4 linked regions of the Homo sapiens genome follow. The protein of the gene in region 4 purifies or fractionates together with the protein of the main gene of each other region. This does not show direct contact. Each region holds a gene or a part of one and is shown on either strand. Other genes may lie near its edges.

Region 1 (4,269 bases), on a different chromosome or scaffold from region 4:
AGATAACTGTGCATGCCCAAGGACCTTCCAGATGTCCCCTTTCCTTCCATCGCTCACCTACTGATCTCAGAATCCACCCTCTGAACCTTTTCTAATAAAAACACTGCCTTGAAGTCAGCACAGGGAGGCAGATTTGAGGTCGACTCCTGTCTCCTTGGGAGTCAATTTGCAATATAAAGCCTTTCTTGTCTCAAAAACCTGGTGTCACAGTGCATCAGGAAGCGAGCCCCTTTTCCTGGATCACAATTTTGAGTGAGAGGAGAAGCCACTGGAGGGTTTCAAAGAGAGTAGTGATGTGGTGTACGTTTAGAGGATCATCAGTGCTGCTGTTTGTGGGAGGCAGATCAGCAAGTTAGTCAGGGGCATGAAGATGACACTGGTTTGCACTCAATGACAGCAGTGGAGGAGGAAAGAAGTCGGATTCAGAATATTTTATGACATATACATAATTTGATATATACATAGTTTATATGTAGATGCCACCAGCTGAAAGGTAATACAAATGGAATAAACCTCTAATATTAATATGCTTACATTTTTTCACCAATGCTACCCGAACTGAAAATATGTTAACACTCAAGATAAAAGCCCTGCTTCCTTTCTATATAATCATGAAAAGACAGTAACACATCTGAAATATTGTAAGATTATTTCTCTGTAGAATCAGATCTTAACTGTACATATGGTAAAAACAGTAGTAATTTTTGAATCTTAATCCCTAATGTTACTTATTTTCTCATTACACTTTAATAAACAAAAAGGCAAACTACAACATACTAACCTTAATAAAAATGGATCTTAACTGTAGAGCCACCAGCTTTCTTGAAGGCAATGAATACACTATAAAAACAAGAAGAAAATGAAATCATATGACAGTGAAGTTATACAAGTTGAAATTATTATGATAAACAAAAATTGAATTATAATACCTTTTGCATTTAAATGTTTTCAATAATTAAAATACGGAACATATATGACATCTGGTTAAAATAAGACCTTTTAGAAGTACCTTAAAATAAGCCAGTGGGCTTTATTCTATGGAACAGATTCATTTCTGAAAAGTTAACTGTAAGAAAATATAAAAAATTATTTTTCTTTTGACTTTAACTGCAAAACCAGAGAAGTATTCCCCTGAAAATTTCTGGTATTATGACAAATAAAATCATCCTTAAGAAAACTGAACTTTTTGGCTTTTGATATTCTCCCCTCTTTGTCTCCAGAGAACAGCAACACTCATTGGGATTAACAGAAAAAACAGTAAAAGGTAGGAGAATGTTAGCCATGTAATAAAATCCTGAAATAGGTACATGTGTGTTCCTTAGAACTTTTTAAAGGATCTGAAATAACATAAAATGTCATGTGAGTCAATGTGTTTGTATTTTTTACTGGGAAAAGGATCCATAGCTTTCATCAGGTTCTACAAGGGGCACACTCTAGAAATGCTTAAGGCTTCCCTGCCCAACTTCATTTCTAAGAATGAGAAGCAGCTGGGCATGGTGGCTCACGCCTGTAATCCCAGCACCTTGGGAGGCTGAGGCAGGTGGATCACAAGGTCAGGAGATCAAGATCATCCTAGCTAACATGGTGAATGAAACCCCGTCTCTACTAAAAAATAAAAAAATTAGCCAGGCTTGGCGGCGGGCACCTGTAGTCCTAGCTACTCAGGAGGCTGAGGCAGGAGAACGGCGTGAACCCGGGGGGCGGAGCTTGCAGTGAGCAGAGATCGCGCCACTGCACTCCAGCTTGGGCAACAGAACAAGACTCCATCTCAAAAAAAAAAAAAAAAAAAAAGAATGAGAAGCTCCTGAGTCAGGGATAAAATACTCTCTAAGGACACAGGATTACTACTGTGCTAAGGGGTAAGTGTTGGTTACCATAAACAGATTGCAAATAACAGCAAATCCTTTGGTGGATCAGGTCTCTACTGTTACAGGTCTTTCGGAAATTGTCTCCTATGGCTGGCGTGATGTGGTGTGACTGGGGGGTATGCTGAACTCAGCAAATCTAGCAAGCACCAGGTATGTTCAGTCCAAAGGAAGTTTAGGAATTAGGGAAAAGGGTATAAATTTAGGGAAAAGAGACTAAGGCAAAGATTACTCAGCCTCTAACCTATCTGTGACAAACACATGTAGTCCAATTCAACTGACCTAGGTTTGAAAAGAATGTATCTGTAGGGGGTGGACAGGCTAAGCTTTTTAAAATGTAAGCTACCACTTCTTCGGTGATAGCAATACTCTCCTCATCAGCGTATCATACAATTCTTTTTTTTTGAGACAGAGTCTCGCTCTGTCACCCAGGCTGAAGTGCAGTGGTGCGATATCGGCTCACTCCAACTTCTGCCTCCCAGGTTCAAGTGATTCTTGTGTGTCAGCCTCTCAAGTAGCTGGGATTACAGGAGCACACCACCACGCCTGGCTAATTTTTGTTTTTTGTTTGTTTTTTAAGACAGAGTCTTGCTCTATCACCCAGACTGGAGTACAATGGTGTGATCTCGGGTCACTGCAACCTCTACCTCCTGGGTTCAAGCGATTCTCCTGTCTCAGCCTCCTGAGTAGCTGGGATTTCAGATGCACACCGTCACAACGGGTTAATTTTTTGTATTTTAGTAGAGACAGAGTTTCATCATGTTACCCAGGCTGGTCTCGAACTCCTGAGCTCAGGCAATCCACCCGTCTTGGCCTCCCAAAGCGCTAGGATTACTAGCATGGGCCACCGTGCCCGGCCTATGCAATTCTTTTTGTTGTTAGGTTCCTGTTTCCTAGTACTTTTTTCTTCTGATGTGATACATTACGAAAGCAACAACACCTTTTCTGTATTCTGCCCCAAAACATTAACCTTTTATCTAATCAAGCCTTTAGAGCTAACTCCAGTTACAGAAAACACAGGGGCTAGAACAACAAGCCAAGTGACAAGAGGACGTAATCAGACAAATCAGAAGGTGGGACATTGTACAAAACAATACACCTAGTCTTTTCTTCAATAAATCGGTTTGTGATGAAAAAAAAGGGACTGCTCTAGAGTAAAAGAGATTTCAAGGGCACAGCACAACAATCGGATATATGAGGGGTCTTCAAAAAGTTCACAGGAAATGTGTACTTACGAAAACATTTTGCACCAAAATAAACTTGTACTGACTTGCTGTAACACGCCTGAAAAGGATCTGGTTTGAGGCACTAAGAAGGATAAGGCATTAAGTGCCCCTATCACAGCAACATGAATTCTGCTTAAACTGAAGCAAGAACATCAAATTTATGGTGAAGCTTGGGTAGATAAATGGTGAAATCACAGATGCTTTAAAAGGGGCGGGCGTGGTGGCTCACACCTGTAATCCCAGCACTTTGGGAAGCTGAGGCGGGCAGATCATGAGGTCAGCAGATGGAGACCATCCTGGCTAACACAGTGAAACCCCGTCTTACTAAAAATACAAAAAAAGTAGCCGGGCGTGATGGCGGGTGTCTGTAGTCCCAGCTACTTGGGAGGCTGAGGCGGAAGAATGGCGTGAACCCGGGAGGCAGAGCTTGCAGTGAGCCGAGATCGTGCCACCGCACTCCAGACTGGGCGACAGAGCAAGACTCCATCTCAAAAAAAAAAAAAAAAGTTTATGAGGGCTGGGCGTGGTGGCTCATACCTGTAATTCCGGCACTTTGGGAGGCTGAGGCGGGTGAACTGCCTGAGGTCAGGAGTTCAAGACCCACCTGGCCAACATGGTGAAACCCTGTCTCTACTAAAAATACAAAAATTAGGCCAGGCGTGGTGGCTCACGCCTGTAATCCCAGCACTCTGGAAGGCCAAGGTGGTTGGATCACCTGAGGTCAGGAGTTCAACACCAGCCTGACTTGCATGGTGAAACCTCATCTCTACTAAAAATACAAAATATTAGCTGGGCGTGGGGGCGTGGACCTGTAATCCCAACTACTCCAGAGGCTGAGGCAAGAGAATTGCTTGAACCCGGGAGGTGGAGGTTGCAGTGAACCAAAATCGTGGCATTGCACTACAGCCTGGGCAACAAGAGCAAAACTCTCTGTCAAAAAAAAAAAAAAATACAAGAATTAGCTGGGTGTGTGGTGAGTGCCTACAATCCCAGCTTCTTGGGAGGCTGAGGCAGGAGCATCTCTTGAACCCAGGAGGCAGAGGTTGCAGTGAGCCGAGATCCCGCCACCACACTCCAGCCTGTGTGACGGAGTGAGACTCCATCTCAAATCGGGCGCGGTGGCTCACGCCTGTAATCCCAGCACTTTGGAGGCTGAGGCAGGCAGATCACGAGGTCAG
Region 2 (4,156 bases), on a different chromosome or scaffold from region 4:
ATATATATACACGTATATATAGAGAGAGGTATATATATATATATATATATTTTTTTTTTTTTAAACTATAGCCACCCTGTTGTGCTAGCTAACACTAGGTCTTATTCTTTGTTTGTTTTGAGATGGAGTCTTGCTCCGTTGCTCAGGCTAGAGTGCAGTGGCACAATCTCGGCCCGCTACGACCTCCTCCTCCCGGGTTCAAGCCAGTCTCCTGCCTCAGCCTCCCAAGTAGCTGGTACCACAGGCACGCACCACCATGCCCGGCCAATTTTTGTTTTGTTTTGTATCTTTAGTAGAGATGGGGCTTCATTATGTTGGCCAGGCTGGTCTTGAGCTCCCAATCTCAGGTGATCTGCCCACCTCAAAGTGCTGGGTCTACAGGCGTCAGCCACCGTGCCTGGCTTGTTTCTTTTTTTTTTTTTTTTTTTGAAACGGTGTCTTGCTCTGTCGCCCAGGCTGGAGTGCAGTGGTACATTCTCAGCTCACTACAACCTGCGCCTCCCACACCCAAGCGACTCTCCTGTCCCAGCCCTCCGAGCAGCTGAGATCACAGGCGCATGTCACCATACCCAGCTAATTTTTTGTATTTTTAGTAGAGACAGGGTTCCACCATGCCGGCCAGGCCGGTCTCGAACTCCCGACCTTGTGATCTGCCAGCCTCGGCCTCCCAAAGTGCTGGGACCACAGACGTGAGCCACCGCGCCCGGCCTGTTTCTTTTTTTTTTTTTTTTTTTTTTTTAGTATTTATTGATCATTCTTGGGTGTTTCTCGGAGAGGGGGATTTGGCAGGGTCATAGGACAATAGTGGAGGGAAGGTCAGCAGATAAACATGTGAACAAGGGTCTCTGGTTTTCCTAGACAGAGGACCCTGCGGCCTTCCTCAGTGTTTGTGTCCCTGGGTACTTGAGATTAGGGAGTGGTGATGACTCTTAAGGAGCATGCTGCCTTCAAGCATCTGTTTAACAAAGCACATCTTGCACCGCCCTTAATCCATTTAACCCTGGGTGGACACAGCACATGTTTCAGAGATCATGGGGTTGGGGGTAAGGTTATAGATTAACAGCATCCCAAGGCAGAAGAATTTTTCTTAATACAGAACAAAATGGAGTCTCCCATGTCTACTTCTTTCTACACCAACACAGTAACAATCTGATCTCTTTTCCCCACATTTCCCCCTTTTCTATTCGACAAAGCCGCCATCGTCATCATGGCCCATTCTCAATGAGCTGTTGGGTACACCTCCCAGACGGGGTGGCAGCCTGGCAGAGGGGCTCCTCACTTCCCAGACGGGGCAGCCGGGCAGAGGCGCCCCCCACCTCCCTCCCAGACGGGGCGGCTGGCGGGGCGGGGGCTGACCCCCCACCTCCCTCCCGGACGGGGCGGCTGCCAGGCGGAGGGGCTCCTCACTTCGCAGACGGGCAGCTGCCGGGCGGAGGGGCTCCTCACTGCTCAGACGGGGCAGCCGATCAGAGACACTCCTCACCTCCCAGATGGGGTGGTGGTCGGGCAGAGACACTCCTCAATTCCCAGACGGGGTCGCCACCGGGCAGAGGCATTCCTCACATCCCAGACTGGGCGGCCGGTCAGAGGGGCTCCTCACATCTCAGACGATGGGCGGCCGGGCAGAGACACTCCTCACTTCCTAGACAGGATGGCGGCCGGGAAGAGGCGCCCCTCACTTCCCAGACTGGGCGGCCAGTCGGAGGGGCTCCTCACATCCCAGACGATGGGCGGCCAGGCAGAGACGCTCCTCACTTCCCAGACGGGGTGGCGGCCGGGTAGAGGCTGCAATCTCGGCACTTTGGGAGGCCAAGGCAGGCGGCTGGGAGGTGGAGGTTGCAGCGAGCCGAGATCACGCCACTGCACTCCAGCCTGGGCAATGTTGAGCACTGAGTGAGCGAGACTCCGTCTGCAATCCCGGCACCTCGGGAGGCGGAGGCAGGTAGATCACTCGCAGTCAGGAGCTGGAGACCAGCCCGGCCAACACGGCGAAACCCCGTCTCCACCAAAAAATGCAAAAACCAGTCAGGTGTGGCGGCGGGCACCTGCAATCCCAGGCACTCTGCAGGCTGAGGCAGGAGAATCAGGCAGGGAGGTTGCAGTGAGCCGAGATGGCGGCAGTACAGTCCAGCCTCGGCTTTGACAACTTTGGTGGCATCAGAGGGAGACCGGGGAGAGGGAGAGGGAGACGGGAGAGGGAGAGGGAGACGGGAGAGGGAGAGGGAGGAGGGAGAGGGAGACGGGAGAGGGAGACGGGAGAGGGACAGGGTTTTCTAGATATACAATCATATCATTGGTAAGCAGAATGACCGCTTTTAGAGTGCTCCCTGTCCCCAATTTTATGTGTAATTCATTTCACACACTTAAGCCTGCAACAGAAAAATGCACATCACAATTTTAAGTCACTTTCCTCCATCGTTATTGACGTGAGTACAATGTTTTTAGTATTATACCTTTGTTTATTGGAAACTCAACTCATTCCTTATTTTCCTCCTGTGTCATCTGCATCCTCCAATGTGATACCAAGTTTTATATTTTCTTATATTTTCTCACTTTAAGTGGAAGTGCAAGCTTCCACTTAAAACTAAGTGCCCACTGTGATAATTTTGGAATGATATCCTATATCTAATGAAATTCTATGCCAGATAACAAATATCACTGTATACTGTTGTCACTCAAATATGCAAATTAAATAGAACTAACTTAGAATGTACTACTCATGGGTAATAATTGGTATGTATGCATGCTCATGGTCAATAGAAAAATAATCGTATTTGTTAAAAAAGAAGTTTCTCAGCCATGGCTTTTGTGCAACTTCTTTTACCTCCAGACAATGCATGCCCACTCTCAGTTCTGCATGAGTGGGGACCACACGTTAGAAGGGACAGAACATGCCATCAAGGAAATTGTCAAAGAAGAAGCTGATGAGTACTTTGTCATAGTCTTGAGTGATGCAAATCTGTCACGATATGGAATACATCCTGCTAAGTTTGCTCAAATCCTCACAAGAGACCCTCAAGTAAATGCTTTTGCCATTTTTATTGGCTCTTTAGGTGATCAAGCAACCAGGTAAGTGTCATCTGAGCATACAGAAAAGGGCAGGTACAGAGATACTGAGTAGCTAACACATGCTGTTTTATAGGCTTAGCACCATGAGGGACAGTGAGGCAGATGGAGGAAAAACAGAAACTAAAGTTACTAGCCTCAAGGGGTTTATAATCTAGTTGAGGGGATATGTTCTAGCTTTTGTTTAGATGAACAATAATAATTTTAAATTAATTATTTTTTAGTTTATATTTAAGCCACTAATAAATCATTGACAAATTGATTTGTCACTAATAAACCGGGTAGTATTTTATACATTTGGCACTTTATGTCAAGCTCCTAAGCTCAGGCTAATCATTTTGTGTTCAAATCATATTAAAAATCGTGAACATCTACTATTTTCCTAGCATAGGAGATAGTGTGTGTGTATGAATGTCTGTACATATTAGACATATATATACACACATATGTATTATATCCCCATAGAGACATCACCTACATATATGCATGCCTGTATATATATATAGACACACTCACATGTATCCCTTCTTATTGCTGGAGAGACAAGGCAGGTGAAACACTTGGCGACAACATAAGATAATATACATATAGTTAGATACTACACTGAATATACTAAATATTCAATAGAGAATCTTATGATCAGACAATAAATACCAGTGGGTATGATCTGAAAGGAGAGATCTGGAAACACTTTCATAACTTGAACACAATAACATTTATCTTTTTGAATTACAAACAGAAAGAGCTCATGGTTTTTCTGTGTTTAAAATACCTGTAAGAAACATAAAACACCAGTGAAAGTAATCTTAAAAAAAAAAAAAAAAATCCCTGCCTAAAGCACAAAGGGCCTACGTTTTTGTTATTCCACCCCTTTTACTTTTCATACTCTGTGACTGGAAATGTTTTAATATCCAAAATGCTAGCAGCTTTTTCTCTTTCTATTCCCTTTGCCTTGCTGTAAGGTTGCAGAGCGAGGTTGAGAACAGACTTAATATCATGTAGTTACAGTCATTTTATGACATGACTTTTCATTCTTCTTAGTTTTTACAAGTTAGCACTTTGCATCTTTTAGAACCTCCACATCCTCAAA
Region 3 (4,269 bases), on a different chromosome or scaffold from region 4:
CAATTTTTTTAAAGTACATGACCACATATAGAATATCAAAATGCCAACAATAAACTTTTCGTTTTTTTAAGGTACAAATTTGTCAGTTACATTTTAAAAATAATGATACCATCTAAAAATATCCAATACCTAATACTGGTTAAACACTATGCAAACACTTTATATCTTATCTCATGTATATATTGTCCACGAAATAGTTATAAATTACATGATTTTTACAAATAGCTCTTTCACACTAAAATTCTGAAACTTTTTTTTATTATGTTGTCAAACAATTATTGCAGGTAACTCTTTTCAGGTCATTACAAGATTACAAACTACATAAGATGAAATTTAATACTTTTTCTAAGCAATTATTTTCCTCTAGATGACTGCTGACTCTGCTATGGTAAGTGATGCCTATAAATGTACTTTATATTTCTAATTTGTTGGAATTAAGAATTAGAATAGGGGAAATTGTTTCTAAGTAAAATCATTTCTAAGTAAAATCTGGAAGTTTAGAAACATTTTGCTAAATATTGCTGTATTTAGCAAAATATATTTTAAATATAGCTTTCTATTTCAAATAGATTGATAAATTTCCTACATGAAAATTAACTTATAATAATCAAAAGAACACATATAGTAAAAATATAATTATAGACTAGTGTAAGGTATTTGCAAAACCATAACTAACAAAAGATTAGCATATGCTACATATTTAAGAATTCTTAAAATGAATAAAAAAGGATAAACAATGAAAACAAAACTAGGTAAAAGATAAACATCTAAAATTCAGAGAAAAGAAAACTGAATGCCTAATACACATTTGAAAAAAGATGTTCCATAGGCAAGAAAATGAAAATGAAAACGAGATACGATTTCATTCACTCCTCAGAATGACAAATTTAAAAGTCTGAAAATCCTAACTTGGTGAAGATGTGGAATAATGGAACATTTCATGTTCTGCTGGAGGAAGTGTAAATTGGCAGAAACACTTCAGAGACAACTTGGCAACATACAGAAAAGGTTAAGATGCTCATAACACATGAGCTGGTCGTACTACTCTATGTATATAACCTAGATAACTCTTGCAAATGTGCACAAGGAGAAGTATAAAAATATTAATTGCAGTGCTGTTTGTAATAAGAACTTTAAAATAAACTAAATGTCCAATCAGCAGAATGGATAAATAGTGGAATATCCATGAATGGATTACTACCCAGCAGTTAAGACAATGACCTAGAACTACTAAAGACAGCATAGTGATTTGGAGCAAGAACTCAGAAACCAACATGCCCAGGCTTAAATCCCTTCCTTATCACTTATTAGCTGTTTGATCTTGAGCAAATTATTTAGTCCCTATGCCTTAGTGCCCCTACCTGCAAAATCACTGTAATAGTGTATTTTATAAGGTTGTATAAGGATCATACAAAAAATATATATAAAGCATAGCCTGATACTGTTTTATATATATGATATGATCCTCCTCCAAAACACAGCCTGATACTATATGTTTACTGTTATTATCTAGCAATGCAAATATTGGAAATTGAAATTGAGATAAAACATATTAATTAGATGTATTCATTCACTCCACAAACATTTACTGACTTTCTACTACATGTGCTACAGGCATGTGCTATGAGGGTTTCAGATACAGCAGTGGATAAAATAAAGTCCCTGTGCTTATGAAACTTATATTCTTGAAACATAAGATAATAAATTAGTAAGTACATATATACATACTTACATACGGTATTAGGTGATGATGAGTGCCATAGGGAAAAATCAGGAAGGATGATAGGGATTGTGAATGCAGGGTATGGGGGCTAACTAATGTATCTGGGGCAATCAAGCAAGGCCTCTTTGAAAAGGTAACAGTTGAGTCTAGTACAGAAGGAAATGAGGTGGAACCTAGATACCTGGGTCAAGAGCAACATATCAAAGAGCAAATACTGAATTTTTAACAAAGCAGACCAAATTACTAGGAAAAGTAATTTATATAATTCTCATATAAAACATGAGAATTACATGTTTATATTATTAAAATTGTATCATTTTTAAAATACCTTAAAATAACCGAGTTTTATAACATGATAATTTATCAGAGATTATTTCTCAAATGTTACCTAAACTTTGTATTTTAAAATTATAAATTAAATATAAATTATTAAGAAATGGCTTACCAGGCTCAATAAATCCAGCAAGGCAAGTAAACATGCCTGGGGGAAATCTTTTCTGCCTGCCTAAAAGGCATTTGGTCCCATCTGGATGAATAACTTGCATGATTACTACTGGATCTGTTGAAAAAAAAAATCAGATACATGAATGGCAGGAAAAACGAATTTAGATTCATTGTACAAACACTGTCTGATAGGATAATATAAAGGTATATCTCCTATAGGGATAGAACTCTTGTCTGGTTGTAAGAGATTGCTTCTTTCTGCCCTAATGTAGCTGATAATAGAATATCTCAGGGAAATTGTATAGAATAGTGTCAGTAAGCTAAAGGAAGACCATTTTTGTCCTTCTTCCCCCAATCTTAACAGCAACATTTATTCTGTACTTATGGATGTTAGGTGTATTATTACTTTTTAATGAGAAAAAAATTTGAGTAGGTAATACATGGAAATAAGGAAAATTCAAATTTTACCACGGTAAATAGTTAATTTCCCTCTTCCATCCTAACCCTTAACAAAATGTTTTTAAAAGCTAATGTGATTCTATGATTAAAGTCATTAAATAAAATTTAAATAACAGTTCATCTCTCTAGAAGTTACTAATTCAGCAAATTCTTCTCACTATATCATGACCAAGAACTAGGAATTAAATGTAAAAGGCTCTTGAGCAACAAAAATAGATGTCACTAAGCCATGTATTTTTCTCCCCAGAGGCCTCCTCAGGTGTTGCTGAGCCTATCTATTCTTCTTTCACACAGTTTTAAAGGTCTGGGTTACCAGATTTCCAAATCTACAGCAGACTCAAGGCAGCAATTAGAAGAGAGAATACAGGCAGACATTAACAGTAATGAAAAGCTAGGGCCAGGCTGTACTGCTTTAGTAATGCCTCAAACAGGCAATAAATTGTACTTAGTGGGGCTTTTTCTCCACTAAGTAGAGCCAAATTGGTTGGCTTTTGAAATCATGTATCATAACATATCAAATTATAGTGAGTAACCCAAAGTTAAGAAATGGCTATTGATGTACCATGTTTTTTACTTAAAAATCATGAAAGTGTGTAACACTTTAACACATTCTTAATGGTTAGACATGTTTTCCATAAAAAGGAAAACTCTTTAGCTCCTCACAAATTTTCTCTTTCCAAAATATCTTATTCCCCAAGATCCAGGTGGCTGAGATATAAAATAAAGGGCTTACCAACTCTTGGGTATGAGGTATTATGGACGCCATTGAGACTAGGACAGTCTTCTTTTAAACATAATCTCTTATAGCCACCTTCTTCAATTTTAGTTGCATTTCCACAGGTTGGGCAAAACTTGTATCGACTGTGCCAGGCAAGAACAGATCTTGCTTGAGCTACAACCCCTTCAAAAAAAAGAAAAGCACAAAAATTTTAATTCTGTAAGAAATTAAAATCAATATATAAGTAAAATGTTCTCAAGCTACAATAAGAATAGCTGTGTGATCAGGGGTTTTAGTATTTCTATTTTTATAATGCGTATTCTTCTTTTAAAGTAAAAGATTTAATTTTCTGGATTACAAAAATTAGATTTTTTTGTTTGAATAAAATATAACTTTCATATAAGATAGACATACTGACATCTATCTTACATCCTATATTAGATCAGGCTTTTACTGTAGGTGATTTTAAAATTTGGGGTATTCATGATTCTAGTGTAGAGTAAGTTTACAAACAGTGATTTTACAATAGTGATTTTAATAAAAATATACCACAAAGTCAGTTCTTAAGTGAGATTTGTACTCTAAAGGAAATATTACTAGGAAACTGTAGGAGGCTATCACCACTCTCTTGGTGACTATGCCATTGATGGTCCAAGCCATGTGGAACACAACCTGTTTTCAACTGGAGACTGCATGTACACAGTATAAAACACACTGCATTTACTACATTCATGGTTAACTTTGTTTACCAAAAAATGCCTAATAGGATAAATCTTAAAATATATACACTTTAGCTATAGGTTTTACTCTGGTAGTTCAAAAAAAGTTAATATGGCCTGGCCAGAAATATTACAGTTGAGGCAATAAGACTAGAAATGCTATATGTTAAATGCTTGACAAAGTTACCCTCCCTAAAATAGATTAT
Region 4 (4,269 bases):
TCGGTTCATCTTCATCTTTCTGTTGTTTCTTATACAGTCATATTTACAAATTCTTCTTTAAGTCTTCAATTCACACAAAAAGCCTGAATTTTGACAACATAATCATTAAAATTGACTATCATGTATGATTACAAATTTATCATTAAATATTTAGAAGTGAATATTGCATGTATCTGTGAAAGACAGATACTATAATAGTTTCAGATTATTGGCTAAGTCAAATTAAAGTTAGATCCTACTTGGCTCTAGAAGATGGAAGCAAACATCTCAAGTTAACAATTTTACTGTCTAAGAAAGTTTCTCATTTTTTGAGACCATGTCCTCATGGCTATACATAACAGTAATATTCTGATCCAATGTAGGATATAGGGAAAAATACAAAATTATTTCAAAATAAAAATATGTTGAATGTTTGTAAAAATTTTTTCTTCCTTCATTCTTTGTTTGTTACTTCATTCTTTCTTCTTTTCTTTCCTTCCAAAAATATTCACTGGTCACTGAATATGTCCCAGGCATTGTTATAGGCCCTGATAAAGTGCTGAATAAGACACAGAAATGCCTGTTTTTATGGAGCATATATTTTTGTGGAGATAAGATGAGGGCAACAACAAAGACAATACACAAATAAATAAAAAGGTAAAAAGCAGTAATAGTAACTTCTACAAGGAAAAGAAGTCAGTAATAGAACAAAAAGCACTGGGTTGCAGAAGAGGGATTTATTTAGATAGAGTGCTCAGGGAAGAGTATTCTGAAGCAGGATTTCTATATGAGACCCCCGAAGTAGAAAAGCAGTTAGTCATTCATACATCAGGGCAAAGGTTCTTGGATAAGATCAAAACCAACATATTTGAAAAAGGAAAAAAAAAAAAAAGCTGCTGCATGAGGAGCATGGGGCAAGATGGAGAATGATAGGGAATGAAGTTAGAAAAGTCATTAGTTAGACAAGGTAAGTCTTGTGTCCTTGGAGAGGTGTTTAGAATATATTCCATTTTAAAAGAGAAAGTATCAGAGGCTTTTCAGAGATCTTATCTGAATAATGTTTGGTTTAACATCTGATTGTGACTGCTCAGTGGATAATGCATGTGTGTATGTGATCAGGGTGGAGGAAAAGTGGAAGCAGGTAGACTGGTTAATAGGCTATTCTGGCAGGGCACGGTGGCTCACGCCTGTATTCCCAGCACTTTGGGAGGCCGAGGCGGACAGATCATGAGGTCAGGAGATCAAGACCATCCTGGCCAACATAGGGAACCCCTGTCTGTACTAAATTACAAAAAATTAGCCAGGCGTGGTGGCACACACCTGTAATCCCGGCTACTCAGGAGGCTGAGGCAGGAGAATCACTTGAACCCGGGAGGTGGAAGTTGCAGTGAGCTGAGTTGGCACCATTGCACTACAGCCGTGCAACAGTGTGAGACTTCGTCTCAAAAAAAAAAAAAAAAAAAGAGGCTATTCCTCCATTTCTGTTAGGGATGACAATAGCTAGAGTTGGCTAGATGCAGTGGAGAAGGTTAGAAGTATTAGGATTTGGGGGTATATTTTTTGAAGTAAATCAAATGACAATTGGTGATGAATTGATTGTGTGCTGGCATAAAAGAGAAATGAAAAACTGTAGATGTCACATTTGAACTGTCCATTAAGTCATGGATAGCATAGTTCATTAACATGTTGTTTACCATAGGTTAAACACAGATGTTTTACTGTTTTGTGACAAAAAGTTCATTGACTACAAAATATGTTTGTTTAGGAAAAAACCTATTGCACTCAAAACCAATACTAACATCATCCTATAGTAGCTGTATAATCAGACTCCAGGCTAGGCTGAATGATTGCCATTTCAGTCCTCCATAGCGTAGTTTTCATCCAGACCTTATCACCATTGGTCTAAATTATCTATTTTATTTATTTAATTATCAATGTTTTTTCAATATAAATTAAGTCCAAGGAAAAACTACCACAAACAAATCAATGTAGTGAGATGAATACTCTGAATACAACAGAATGAAATAGTCTTTGGAAAAGAAAGAAAACTTTTGTAGATTTCACTTATTTCTGCATCAGTATCTGAAAGAAGAAAATAACATTGGTTCAGTATAATAAAATGACCAAATGACTCACACTTAAAGCAAAATTATTTTTCTTGATTTATGATTTTAATGTTATTTCAAAAAGACCATAATGAATGGTTATCTACAAATTCATGCTATTTGGCAAAATACTAAATACAAATGCTACAGAATATATGAAACTATTATGTGTATCTAATATCTTGAACTAATTCACTAGCCAATTGTTCATTTAACATAAAAGTAAAATAAATGAAAACCAAAGAATATAGCAATAGTCAAGGTTTAACTAAAAATGGATATCTTTTAGTTTCTTTGGCAATGGCTGCTGTAAAGAGGTATCACCAACAATAATAAATACCATCACATTTGCTTTTCAATTCTACTTTAGCTAGTGATGTCACCTCAGAAATAACTTTGATTTGGCTGACAGTCAAAGCCTTGTCATTTACCTGTCTGGTAAACATTAAAATTGGAACATCTTTGAGAAGGGATGAAGGAGAAGAACCTGAAATTAAGATGGCCAAGTTTCTTGCTTATCCCCTGATCAGATGACTAAGACACAGTGAGTCCAGTTGAGCTGTTTGTTTGTGCCTTTGGGTGGTACAATGTAGGGACAGGGAGACTTCAGGTCTAAATTGTTTGTTTTCTAAAACAGTAGTTCTTAATATGGGGTAGGATGGTGGCTGAAGGGATAGCATACAGAATAATCTGTAAGAACTTAAACAATGCCTCTTTCTATGTATAGTCCAACCCTCTTTTCCCACGTTAAAGGTTTTTACCTATATTAACTACTGTTAATTTAAAATCTTCAAGTCATAATCAATTTGGATCAATTTAAGGAGGAACTCGCTATTTGTTCAAAAGTAGCCTGAGTTCCTTACGCAAGACATGAGTTAATAGTTTGAAAGGTTCTGAGGCACAAACTACCAGTGCTTCTCTAAGCTCCACTTTCTCATTTTCATGTAGTAAAAAATATAATACATTCCAAGGTAGCTTCAGATTATGAGATTTAACCTCTTTATCTATAATTTCTAAATTATATTATCACATATGACTTACAGAAATGAACCCATGGTACTCTTCTAGAGAATTTCACTGATTTGCCTAGAAAACATTAAAAAAAAGATCTTTTCATAAACAATCAAATGTACTTTATTTCATAGTATTGGGCCTATCTTTTCTAAATAACCTTTCTTCTCTGAGAAGTTGTGTTTTGCTGATCTCTTCTTAACATGTTTAAAATATTCTATACTGCTACTAGATTTAGCTTTCTGAAACAGAGAACTGGTTGAATCACTCCTCTCAGTGAAGGTCCCTAATAAATTGCTTTGGCTACAGGATGAAGTCCAAGGTATTGAGCAGTGTTTTCAAGGTCCCTTCTTATCAGGTTCTATTTCTTTTTATCTTCACTTTCTATCATTTCCTTCTACTGTCATGTGAACCATGAGCTACAGGTATATATATATATATATATATATATATGTATACGTGTATATATATGTATGTGTGTATATATATATATATATATATATACAGTGTTCATAATACCCCAGCAGATGGAAAGTGCTTGTGTCAAATCTACTGAATGAACATATTTAATGTGTGAAGCATTGGAAGCATTGGAGAACAAGCCTGGCTCATCATACCTCTCTAGAGAAGCTGCAAACACCATTGAATGTAACCCCTTGGTGAATATCTTAAAAGAAAAAGAGTTCTTATCTCCTTCTAGGTAACAACTACTAGAGCTTTCCAAGTGGTGGCAATGTGCTGCATAAATAATTCATTGGTGGATTTAAACTTCCATTTGTTTTTAGCCTCTTGCCAGGGTTCAGAGTATCTTCTATGTAGTTCAGAATCATGGTTTCCCTTTGGTAAAATAGCCTAATTCCTTGGGTCATATCTACTAAAATTTAGGGACTAGCTGCTTCTTACATTTTTTTTTTTGTCTGAAAACAATTGTTTTTCTAAAAGTTTAGTAAACTTCGCTAAAGCTAAAGTTCAAGATGAATAATAGAAACTGCATTTACTCTCTTGCTCAAAACAAAAATAATGTGCAAACATGAGAAGAAAAATGAGAAGGAACAATTTTTCAAGATCTAAATATCAGGCTGTGTAAAATAGTAATCACTAAGAGACAGGAAGCAAGGTAGGTGGTCTCTATGATTGTCCTAGCATACTGCCTGGAGTGAGTTTCCATGGCTTG

Evidence for each region.
Region 1: the proteins of PRR27 (region 4) and PSMG2 purify together in Homo sapiens (affinity purification with mass spectrometry; one large-scale study listed by BioGRID and IntAct). This does not show direct contact.
Region 2: the proteins of PRR27 (region 4) and VWA8 purify together in Homo sapiens (affinity purification with mass spectrometry; one large-scale study listed by BioGRID and IntAct). This does not show direct contact.
Region 3: the proteins of PRR27 (region 4) and NUDT12 purify together in Homo sapiens (affinity purification with mass spectrometry; one large-scale study listed by BioGRID and IntAct). This does not show direct contact.

The regions. Positions count from the first base shown.
Region 1 is NC_000018.10:12,709,273-12,713,541, reverse strand, and holds part of PSMG2 (proteasome assembly chaperone 2), read right to left. Parts: intron 841-4,269; coding exon 782-840; intron 1-781. UniProt on the Homo sapiens protein: Chaperone protein which promotes assembly of the 20S proteasome as part of a heterodimer with PSMG1.
Region 2 is NC_000013.11:41,569,381-41,573,536, reverse strand, and holds part of VWA8 (von Willebrand factor A domain-containing protein 8 isoform a precursor), read left to right. Parts: intron 1-2,830; coding exon 2,831-3,069; intron 3,070-4,156. UniProt on the Homo sapiens protein: Exhibits ATPase activity in vitro.
Region 3 is NC_000005.10:103,552,572-103,556,840, forward strand, and holds part of NUDT12 (NAD-capped RNA hydrolase NUDT12), read right to left. Parts: intron 3,528-4,269; coding exon 3,360-3,527; intron 2,283-3,359; coding exon 2,169-2,282; intron 1-2,168. UniProt on the Homo sapiens protein: mRNA decapping enzyme that specifically removes the nicotinamide adenine dinucleotide (NAD) cap from a subset of mRNAs by hydrolyzing the diphosphate linkage to produce nicotinamide mononucleotide (NMN) and 5' monophosphate mRNA.
Region 4 is NC_000004.12:70,160,487-70,164,755, reverse strand, and holds part of PRR27 (proline-rich protein 27 precursor), read right to left. Parts: intron 3,171-4,269; coding exon 3,159-3,170; 3' UTR 3,126-3,158; intron 2,062-3,125; 3' UTR 1-2,061.